2 separate regions of the Homo sapiens genome follow, and region 1 is linked to region 2. Evidence: fine-mapped expression QTL. Tissue or cell type: whole blood. Region 2 holds a variant in brackets; the other region holds the start of a gene. All regions are shown on one strand. Distances are between the middles of the regions.

Region 1 (5,000 bases), 740 kb after region 2:
AGGCTCACTATGCAGAGGGGAAGTGGAAGGAGATGTTTGGACTTCTAAACTCAATAGAGCAGGAGAGGCAAATGTAGAATGTGCTCAGGAAATATCTGTGAGATGAATGAACTTGAGGGAAGTAAGGTACTAGATATTACCTGCCCTACCCAGAACAAATCCTGTGCAATGTTTCCTTGAAAAGTGAGAAGTCTGGAAGGGGTGGCTACTGACATAGTGAAGCAACTAGTTCAATTCTACAACTTGACAGCTACCCCTGTGCCAGGCTATCTACGAGGATACTTAGAATGCATAAGACATTCCTTCAAGGAACTCCAGGAACAGAGGCCTGACATGTTGCAATGTTTAGTGTCAAGCAGTGTACTAGAGACACATTATCACACTCAAACCTCACAACAATTCTGTGAGGTAGGAGTTATCACTCCCCTTTTATAGATGAAACAGAGGCTTAGAGTGATTGATTTATTGAAAGTCAAACAGCCAGTAAATGGTGTAGCCAGGATTCCAAACTTGCTGTCTCACTGAGACTGTACTTAATTACTGGAGGGACCGGGTGTGGTGGCTCATTGCTATAATCCCAACACCTTGGGAGGCTGAGGCTGGTGGATCACCTGAGGTCAGGGGTTCGAGACCAGCCTGGCCAACATGGTGAAACCCCATCTCTACTAAAAATACAAAAATTAGCTGGGCATGGTGGTGGGCTCCTGTAATCCCAGCTACTCAGGAGGCTGAGGCAGGGCAATTGCTTGAGCCGAGATCACACTGCACTCCAGCCTGGGCAACAGGGCAAGACTCTGTCTCAAAACCAAAAAAAAAAAAATTACTGGAGGAACCTAGAAGAAGAAATGATCAATTTTGCTTGGAGTGTATCTAGAAAGACTTCACTGAGATCATTTAAAGAACAAAAAGGATGGCTGGGGTCCAGCGCAGTGGCTCATGCCTGTAATCCCAGCACTTTCGGATACCAAGGCAGCAGATCACCTGAGGTCCAGAGTTTCAGACCAGCCTGGCCAACATAGTGAAACCCCATCTCTACTAAAAATAAAAAAATTAGCTGAGCATGTTGGAGGGCACCTGTAATCCCAGCTACTTGGGAGGCTGAGGCAGGAGAATCACTCGAACCCAGGAGGTGGAGGTTGCAGTGAGCCAAGATCACGCCACTGCACTCCAGCCTGGGCAACAGAGTGAGACTCTGTCTCAAAAAACAACAACAACAAAAAATACAAACAAGAGACAAGTAGTTCCCAGGTGCCTACCAAGTGGTCAGGCACTGCACTTACCTCACTGACTGCAGTAACCACCCTTTGAGGTTGTGGCATTGCCTCCATTTTCCAGGCAAGGAAATGGGCTGAGAGCTGGGATTAGTCAGGTCATGACTGTGTGTGCCACTCCCGCTAAATCTCATTTGATGTGGTTCATGAGGCCACACCATGGACAGCTTCCTCCTTGTGTCCACTGAGGATATGGCTTTGTACAACACTTTGGTTTTTGAACGACTTTACAAACCTCCCTGTCTTGTGAGGAAGGAAGAACAGTTATTACCATCTGCATCTGATGATGAAACAAGGGACGCTGCAGAGGAGCCGCACTGACCACTCCCTCCCTCCAGTCCTGTCATCCCACTGCCAGTGTCCCACCCTCTTGTGCCCTGCACTTCACTGGCTAATAACCCCCCTCACTTTTTCCTCTGTGAAGCCATCCTGGATAATTCCCCACCCACGAATGGTCCCTCCTCATCTCAGAGAGCTCTCCATGCACACCTGTTACCGTTTCTGTCTTTATCTGTAAATATCTGTGTGTCTGACTTCCATGCCTCACACACCTCTATAGGGCAAAGACTGTCTTAAACATCTTGGTAGTGTCAGTATTTTGCACAGTGAAGTTTTTTTTTTTAAATTATATCAGCTTTATTTGTACCTTTTTGACATTTCTATCAAAAAAGAAGTGTGCCTGCTGTGGTTCCCATCCTCTGGGATTTAGGAGCCTCTACCCCATTCTCCATGCAAATCTGTGTTCTAGGCTCTTCCTAAAGTTGTCACCCATACATGCCCTCCAGAGTTTTATAGGGCATATAATCTGTAACAGATGAGAGGAAGCCAATTGCCCTTTAGAAATATGGCTGTGATTGCCTCACTTCCTGTGTCATGTGACGCTCCTAGTCATCACATGACCCATCCACATCGGGAAGCCGGAATTACTTGCAGGGCTAACCTAGTGCCTATAGCTAAGGCAGGTACCTGCATCCTTGTTTTTGTTTAGTGGATCCTCTATCCTTCAGAGACTCTGGAACCCCTGTGGTCTTCTCTTCATCTAATGACCCTGAGGGGATGGAGTTTTCAAGTCCTTCCAGAGAGGTAAGAGAGAGAGCTCCCAATCAGCATTGTCACAGTGCTTCTGGAATCCTGGCACTGGAATTTAATGAATGACAGACTCTCTTTGAATCCAGGGCCATCATGGCTCTTTGAGCAAGGCACAGATGGAGGGAGGGGTCGAAGTTGAAATGGGTGGGAAGAGTGGTGGGGAGCATCCTGATTTGGGGTGGGCAGAGAGTTGTCATCAGAAGGGTTGCAGGGAGAGCTGCACCCAGGTTTCTGTGGGCCTTGTCCTAATGAATGTGGGAGACCGGGCCATGGGCACCCAAAGGCAGCTAAGCCCTGCCCAGGAGAGTAGTTGAGGGGTGGAGAGGGGCTTGCTTTTCAGTCATTCCTCATTCTGTCCTCAGGAATGTCCCAAGCCTTTGAGTAGGGTAAGCATCATGGCTGGCAGCCTCACAGGATTGCTTCTACTTCAGGCAGTGTCGTGGGCATCAGGTGAGTGAGTCAAGGCAGTGGGGAGGTAGCACAGAGCCTCCCTTCTGCCTCATAGTCCTTTGGTAGCCTTCCAGTAAGCTGGTGGTAGACTTTTAGTAGGTGCTCAATAAATCCTTTTGAGTGACTGAGACCAACTTTGGGGTGAGGATTTTGTTTTTTTTCTTTTGAAACAGAGTCTTACTCTGTTGCCTGGGCTGGAGTGCAGTGGTGCAATTTTGGCTCATTCCAACCTCTGCCTCCCAGATTCAAGCGATTCTCTTGCTTCAGCTTCCCAGGTAGCTGGGATTACAGGCGGCCACCACTACGCCCAGCTAATTTTTGTATTTTTAGTAGAGACGGGGTTTCACCATGCTGGCAAGGCAGGTCTCAAACTCCTCACCTCAGGTGATCCGCCCACCTCGGCCTCCTAAAGTGCTAGGATTACAGGTGTGAGCCCCTGCGCCCGGCCAAGGGGTGAGGAATTTTGAAACCGTGTTCAGTCTCTCCTAGCAGATGTGTCCATTCTCCATGTCTTCATCAGACCTCACTCTGCTTGTACTCCCTCCCTCCCAGGTGCCCGCCCCTGCATCCCTAAAAGCTTCGGCTACAGCTCGGTGGTGTGTGTCTGCAATGCCACATACTGTGACTCCTTTGACCCCCCGACCTTTCCTGCCCTTGGTACCTTCAGCCGCTATGAGAGTACACGCAGTGGGCGACGGATGGAGCTGAGTATGGGGCCCATCCAGGCTAATCACACGGGCACAGGTAACCATTACACCCCTCACCCCCTGGGCCAGGCTGGGTCCTCCTAGAGGTAAATGGTGTCAGTGATCACCATGGAGTTTCCCGCTGGGTACTGATACCCTTATTCCCTGTGGATGTCCTCAGGCCTGCTACTGACCCTGCAGCCAGAACAGAAGTTCCAGAAAGTGAAGGGATTTGGAGGGGCCATGACAGATGCTGCTGCTCTCAACATCCTTGCCCTGTCACCCCCTGCCCAAAATTTGCTACTTAAATCGTACTTCTCTGAAGAAGGTGAGGAGGAAGGGGACAAGATGACATAGAGCCATTGAAACTTTTCGTTTTTCTTTTCTTTTTTTAAAATTTTTTTGAGGCAGAATCTCACTCTGCCCATTCTGTCGGCGAGACAGGAGTGCAGTGGTGTGATCTCCCCTCACAGCAACCTCTGCCTCCCAGGCTATAGTGATTCTCCTGCCTCAGCCTCCTGAGTAGCTGGAATTATAGGCGTGCGCCACTACCACCTGGCTAATTTTTGTATTTTTAGTAGAGACAGGGTTTCATCATGTTGACCAGGCTAGTCTTAAACTCCTGACCTCAAATGATATACCTGCCTTGGCCTCCCGAAGTGCTGGAATTACAAGTGTGAGCCACCGAGCCCAGCAGACACTTTTCTTTTTTCTTTTTTTTTTTTTGAGACAGAGTCTCGCACTGTCACCCAGGCTGGAGTGCAGTGGCACAATCTCAGCTCACTGCAACCTCCACCTCCCGGGTTCAGGTGATTCTCCTGTCTCAGCCTCTCGAGTACCTGGGATTACAGGTGCCTGCCACCACGCCCGGCTAATTTTTTGTATTTTTAGTAGAGACAGGGTTTCACTATGTTGGCCAGGATGATTGCGAACTCCTGACCTCGTGATCTGCCCACATCGGCCTCCCAAAGTGCTGGGATTACATGCGTGAGCCACTGACACTTTTCTTTGCCCTTTCTTTGGACCCTGACTTCTGCCCATCCCTGACATTTGGTTCCTGTTTTAATGCCCTGTGAAATAAGATTTCACCGCCTATCATCTGCTAACTGCTACGGACTCAGGCTCAGAAAGGCCTGCGCTTCACCCAGGTGCCAGCCTCCACAGGTTCCAACCCAGGAGCCCAAGTTCCCTTTGGCCCTGACTCAGACACTATTAGGACTGGCAAGTGATAAGCAGAGTCCCATACTCTCCTATTGACTCGGACTACCATATCTTGATCATCCTTTTCTGTAGGAATCGGATATAACATCATCCGGGTACCCATGGCCAGCTGTGACTTCTCCATCCGCACCTACACCTATGCAGACACCCCTGATGATTTCCAGTTGCACAACTTCAGCCTCCCAGAGGAAGATACCAAGCTCAAGGTAGGCATTCTAGCTTTTTCAGGCCCTGAGGGCCCTGATGTCTGGGGGTTGAGAAACTGTAGGGTAGGTCTGCTTGT
Region 2 (5,000 bases):
CATAGAGACCTTCTTAGTTGAGTTGAGGGACCATGAGGTCGCTTGAAAAACCCCAGGGTTCAAATTCTATGTTTCCTGGGTACCCAGGCTGGAGTGTGGCCCTTTAAGATTCTATCCATAGCTTGCAGCACCCTCCTGCCCCAGGCCTGGGAGAGAAGCTGAGGTCCCACCCCAGATCTTGTCTCTGGGCCTCCAGTGGGTGGAACCTTGAGGCCAAGATTCTAGCCTCTGGCTGTCTGTTTTTAAATTTAGTACATTCCTGAGTCTTGGCTGCCCACCTCAGGGGAGGTGAGTCTGGAGTTCTGGGGCCAGGAGCCTCAGGCCTCTTGGTTTGGGGGAGTTCCTACACCCTCCCCGTAGGTATACTTGGCAGGTGCAAGCCAGGAAGAACAAGCTGTGGCCCTGGGGAAGTCCTTCCTGCTTTCTAATGTCCATCCAGCCTGAACTGGGCACGGTTTATTTCCTCTTCCTTTTTCCTGGTCTTTGCTATTTAAGGATTCTAAACAGGGGAATGGGTGAAGAAGGAGGTGAAGGAGTTGCTAGGAAGGAGGGGAAGCCGGAGGGGCAGTGTGGGGGTAGTGCTGGGGGTGAGGAGCCCAACCAGCTCAGCCAGTGGTGAGGTAGTGGAGCCCAAAAATAGTGGCAGAGGCTAAAATTGGCACCTACAAGAGTGCTGAGTTGGGCTTGAAACCTGCAGCCTGGCCCCACTGCTGAGCCAGGGCAGAGAACTGCTGGATCTGGGTTGGGTCTCCCCTCCCTCCCTTCTTCTCCCACGCCCTTTGGGGCCAGAATCAGGCAGGACCCTGCTAACCGAAGGCTCTGTCCCAGGCCTCTCTGTGCTTCTGGTTTCTCCAGAGAAATGGGAGACCCTGAGAGGCAGAAATGAACTTCACTGTAAGTGATCATAGTTAGACTGGAGGAGGAATTTTCCCAATAGCAGGAAACTCACCCAAAGGCTGGCTCAGGCTGGGGAAAAGGGTCCAGAGAGATGAATGCCCCACCTTACCCTGCTTCTTGGGGAGAGGCTGGTTGGGCCCTAACTTTCTTTGACTAGGGCAGGCTGGTTTCTGGTCTTTCAGTTCCGGCTTAACTTGCAACAGAGAGAACTGCAGTTAGACACATGGAAGGCCTTCGGTAAAAGTGGAGAATCCCAACCTAGTCCCCCAAAGTAGCTGGCAGAGGCGGAGCTAGGAGGAGGGCAGAGTGGGGTCAGGAAGGCCCCAGAAGGGTGGGGCATGTGGGAGAATTCTCTCCTCTCTGTTCTTCGACCTCTGGGAGTGAATCCTACCCTTCCCGTGTACTGAAGATCCAGCGTTTAGTTCTCCTTTGATTTCCTCTCCCTCTGGCCACCCCTGCCCCCAATCGTAAAAGGGGTCAGTCTGCTCAGGCCTGCTTTGATGGGACCCCGAAGGCCAGGAAGGAACTGGTCCTGGGTTTTCTAAGAGCTGGGGGCGGATGGAATTCTCCTGCCTGCGGGTCTTTAAAGACTGAGGTAACGCAGTAGGGGAGGGAAAAAGGGAGGGCGAGGGGAGAAGGGAAGAAGGGGAGGGCAGAGGGGAAAGGGCCAACCTGGGTCCGGCGAGGGCTGCGGGGCTGGGTTTTAGGAAAAGAAGAGCTAAGAGGCGGGTCTCTGGGGCTAGAGGGCGCCCCCAGGCGCTGGAGGGGAAATAGGCAGAGGGGCCTCTCAAACCTGTCCTAGGACCCTCGTACCTCTCCGAGCTGCCCCCACACAAACCCTGGCGTCCCGTCCTGCGCGCGGGCACCCCGCCCTCCCTCCGCTCCGCCTACCCCCTTCCTGAGCTTGGGCGGGGGAGGAGACTCGGGTTTGAGGAACTGGTGCTGGGTGCCGGGCGAGGGGAGTCAGACTTCCTGTCCCCGAGACCAACGCGTGCGGGCCGAACCCCTCCCCCCGCCTTCCCCCAACAATACAGGACGCCGGGGTCCGCGCCGCGTCCTCCCTGGTCCCCCCGTCCGATTATGTCTCGGATCGAATCCCTCACGCGGGCGCGGATCGACCGGAGCAGAGAGCTGGCGAGCAAGGTGGGCTCGGAAACCCCTCTCCTTTCGCCGCGGTCCTCGGGTGCTCCCCGAACCCCGGCACCCGCGGTGCATCTCCTGTCTCCCCGCCTGCTTTCTGGGCGCCAAAATCGGGCGGAGCGGTGGATCGGCGAGCGGCGGGACGGGGTGGGTGGGGACTGCGAGCGAGTGGGTAGGGGTGGGGGGAGCGGCAGACGCGACGGTGCTGGGATCCCGGGAGGGAGCGGAGCGGACCTGGGCTTGGTCGCCTCCAAGCCGGCGGGACCGAGTGCTTTAGGCCGCTTGAAAGAAAGTTGCTCCGGTAAGGGACGGAGCGGGAAGAGGGAGGTGTGTGTCTCGCGGGTGGGGGCGGTGGAAGCTCCGGCACCTCCTCTCACCCCGGGCCCCACCGGCTTGGGCTTGGCGTGGCGACCCCCCATCACTCCCCAATCGCTGGCTTGGTCGTTCCCCCTTTGTCCCCGCCATCCGGCGGAGGGGACGGGA[G/C]GGGGTGGTTTCCCGGCTTCCTCCCACCACCACCACCACCCCTCCAAGACAAAAGTCAGCTCCTCCTCTCCTCGCAAATGGACTTTCCAGCTGTGATTCAGTTCTCCCCTCTGGGTGGGCGGGTGGCTGGGGTCGGGACGGCCGAGGGACGGCTTACTTCCCCCAAACCATCACCTCTAGGTGAAGGGAGCAGAGGTCTTTGTGTAGCTGGGCTCCTTTCCTCCATCCTGAGCCCTTCTGCCTGGAACATAGGGCCTCCATCCCTATCTGCCCCGCCAGCCTCCTAGCTCTTCCTTCTCCCAACCTGAAACCCTTAGGCTGACACACCTGGCACTATGCATTGTGTTCCCTGCCCTTCCTCCTCCTCCCCCAGCGCTCTCATTCTCTTATCTGCTCGTCTTGGGGTCCCTTCACCTAGCATTTCATGAGTCTGGGTGTATAATTATCCACACGCCTCCCCCATCATGACCTCTTGGCCACTCCTCTCCAAGTACCCTTTATCCCTGCCTTTGTACCCAGCCCCATTCCCAAGTGCCCTGACCTTTCCACACCCAGACCCCAGGAAATGATGAAGCTGACTTGCAGGTGAATAAGTCAGAGCTGAAAGGAAGGTGGTGCCTGCAGACAGCACCTCCCAGCTCCTTTGGGGCCCCCGCACTGTACCCATTATCAGAAAGGACAGGTCCCAGCCCAGAGTTGGTTTAATCTCTGGCTTCTCTCCAACCTGAGTGCCCTACTACCCTGGTGCCAGCCTATGCTGATCACCAACTTCAGCCAAGGGAGCAGTACCCCTTAGGAGTCCTTAAGGGTGATGGAAAGCCCTCCCCTCCACCTCCCTGGTAGTTCCTAGCCAGGCTACCTGTCTTGATGCTAAACTGGGAGAGACAGAGGTTCCATCCTGGGTTGGGGGTGGAGGGCCAGGGAAAGCAGCTTTAAAAGGACTTTCCTTAGGGGGTTGGGATTAGATTTTGCTATCTGGAAAGCAACTGGGGATTCGAGTAGGGCCTAAGACAAACAGAGGGCCGGGGTGAGGTGGCTGAAGTGTGGTGGAACAGTGGGGTGGCAGACAGGCTCTTCACAGCCTGCGCCAGCCCAGGCCCCAGCTCCAAAAGTCTGTTTATTTTTTCAACCGTTTGAGCTGAGACCCTGGAGTAGAGCCAAGGGGGGCGGGGGAGGTTTTTTGAAACCGCAGAAATTTGGTTCCACCCTAAAAAGGAAAGCCATGGGGGAGCTGGTTGGGGGAAGACCTGGCTAGGGGGTATAGAGAGCGGTTCTGTGGGGGCAGGTAGCTACTGGGATCCCTTTTCCATTATTGTGGGGAGCTGGGACGTCAGACATCTGGGTGTTCATGCTCTGTTTTTGTTTTTGTTTTTGGTGGTGGGGGGACTGGCTCTTCTTTCTACTATGGGGGCTGGCTGTGTGGGGCAGGTAATTTGGGAATCTGGCTGGCAGCAGGGAGTCGGGGGCTGAGTGGGTGGATCTGAGAGGGCAAAGAGGCCACCGGAGAAGGGTGGTTGTCAGTTTGGGCCGGTCGGAAGGGGAGGGCCACCTCCGGAAAACTGTGGTTACAGAAGGGGGAGTTGGTTCTTAGCCAACAAACCCTGGATCCCCTCTCCCCCTCCCCCCAGCACACCAGCTGTCTCCTTTCTTTTTATACTGTGGTGGGAAGTAGAGGGGCACCCGCTGGAAAAGACATTATTTGAAGAAGATGGTGTCCCCTGCTACCTCCTTGGGGGGATGGGTCACAGCTAAGCCCTGACACCTCAGCCCCTCCCCATTCCTTGCCTCATTCCCTGGGAGCTCCTCCTAGGAGGAGGAATGTAAGTTTAACCTGCCCCTTTCTCTGTCCCATCCTCACAGGATCTCTCTGTGTAGCCCCCTCCATGCTTCCTTTTTCTTTTCACTCCATTTCTGTTCTCCCAGGCTGTCTTCAGTCCTCCACCTCCTCTGTTCTCTCTGCTCTACTTCCTACCTCCACAAGCCCCAAACCTCACAGGTCCCCTTTCTCTCTTTAGTCCCCTGTTCTTCCCTTTCTCCTTTCCCAAACCCCAACCATCATATCCCTTAGAACAAAGGGTCCTTTTCTGCCAAGCAGGGACCAGAGGTCCAGGGATGGCTGTGGAGGCTGGGGGTCCCCTTGGAATCTCTGTGGTGGGCAGGTGGAGTGGGGAGTGTGCAGAGCGACTATTTCTTTGTTCTGAGGAATGGAGAGGTGGCTGGCTTTGTGTGCAGGACTAGGAGTGCAGTGGAGAGGAGAGCTGGGGGAGCCCAGGAGGGAGCTGAGAGGGCTGACGGTGTTGGAGGAGAGTGGAAGAATGGGGGGTCCTCCTGGTGGCTGAGGCTTCTGGGGACATAGACAAAAATTCTAGGGGTCGTGGAGGTTAGGGAGAGAGTTGAGGGGGAGGGGAGAAGTGAGGATAGGGGAAGGGAGTCTAAAGCTTAGGGAAGTCACTGAGTGACTTGCAGGAGGTTAGATGGGG

Evidence for each region.
Region 1: GBA1 starts here. The variant in region 2 is fine-mapped to the expression of GBA1 in whole blood (TOPMed, PIP 0.95).

What each region holds. Positions count from the first base shown.
Region 1 is chr1:155,238,440-155,243,439 of GRCh38, reverse strand. It overlaps GBA1 (glucosylceramidase beta 1), which reads left to right and starts at 2,191. Exons shown (of 11, transcript NM_000157.4): 1 at 2,191-2,354; 2 at 2,723-2,810; 3 at 3,363-3,554; 4 at 3,678-3,824; 5 at 4,790-4,923. The coding sequence starts at 2,328.
Region 2 is chr1:155,975,405-155,980,404 of GRCh38, reverse strand. ARHGEF2 (Rho/Rac guanine nucleotide exchange factor 2) reads left to right here and starts at 1,858. Exons shown (of 22, transcript NM_001162383.2): 1 at 1,858-2,040. The coding sequence starts at 1,978. It overlaps ARHGEF2-AS2 (ARHGEF2 antisense RNA 2), which reads right to left and starts at 1,766. Exons shown (of 3, transcript NR_183460.1): 1 at 1,711-1,766; 2 at 950-1,085. RefSeq lists enhancers at 664-713, 101-722, 1,184-1,253, 3,384-3,463, 3,580-4,081 and 1 more and silencers at 1,594-1,643, 1,704-1,863. The variant G/C (reference allele first, on the strand shown) is at 2,521.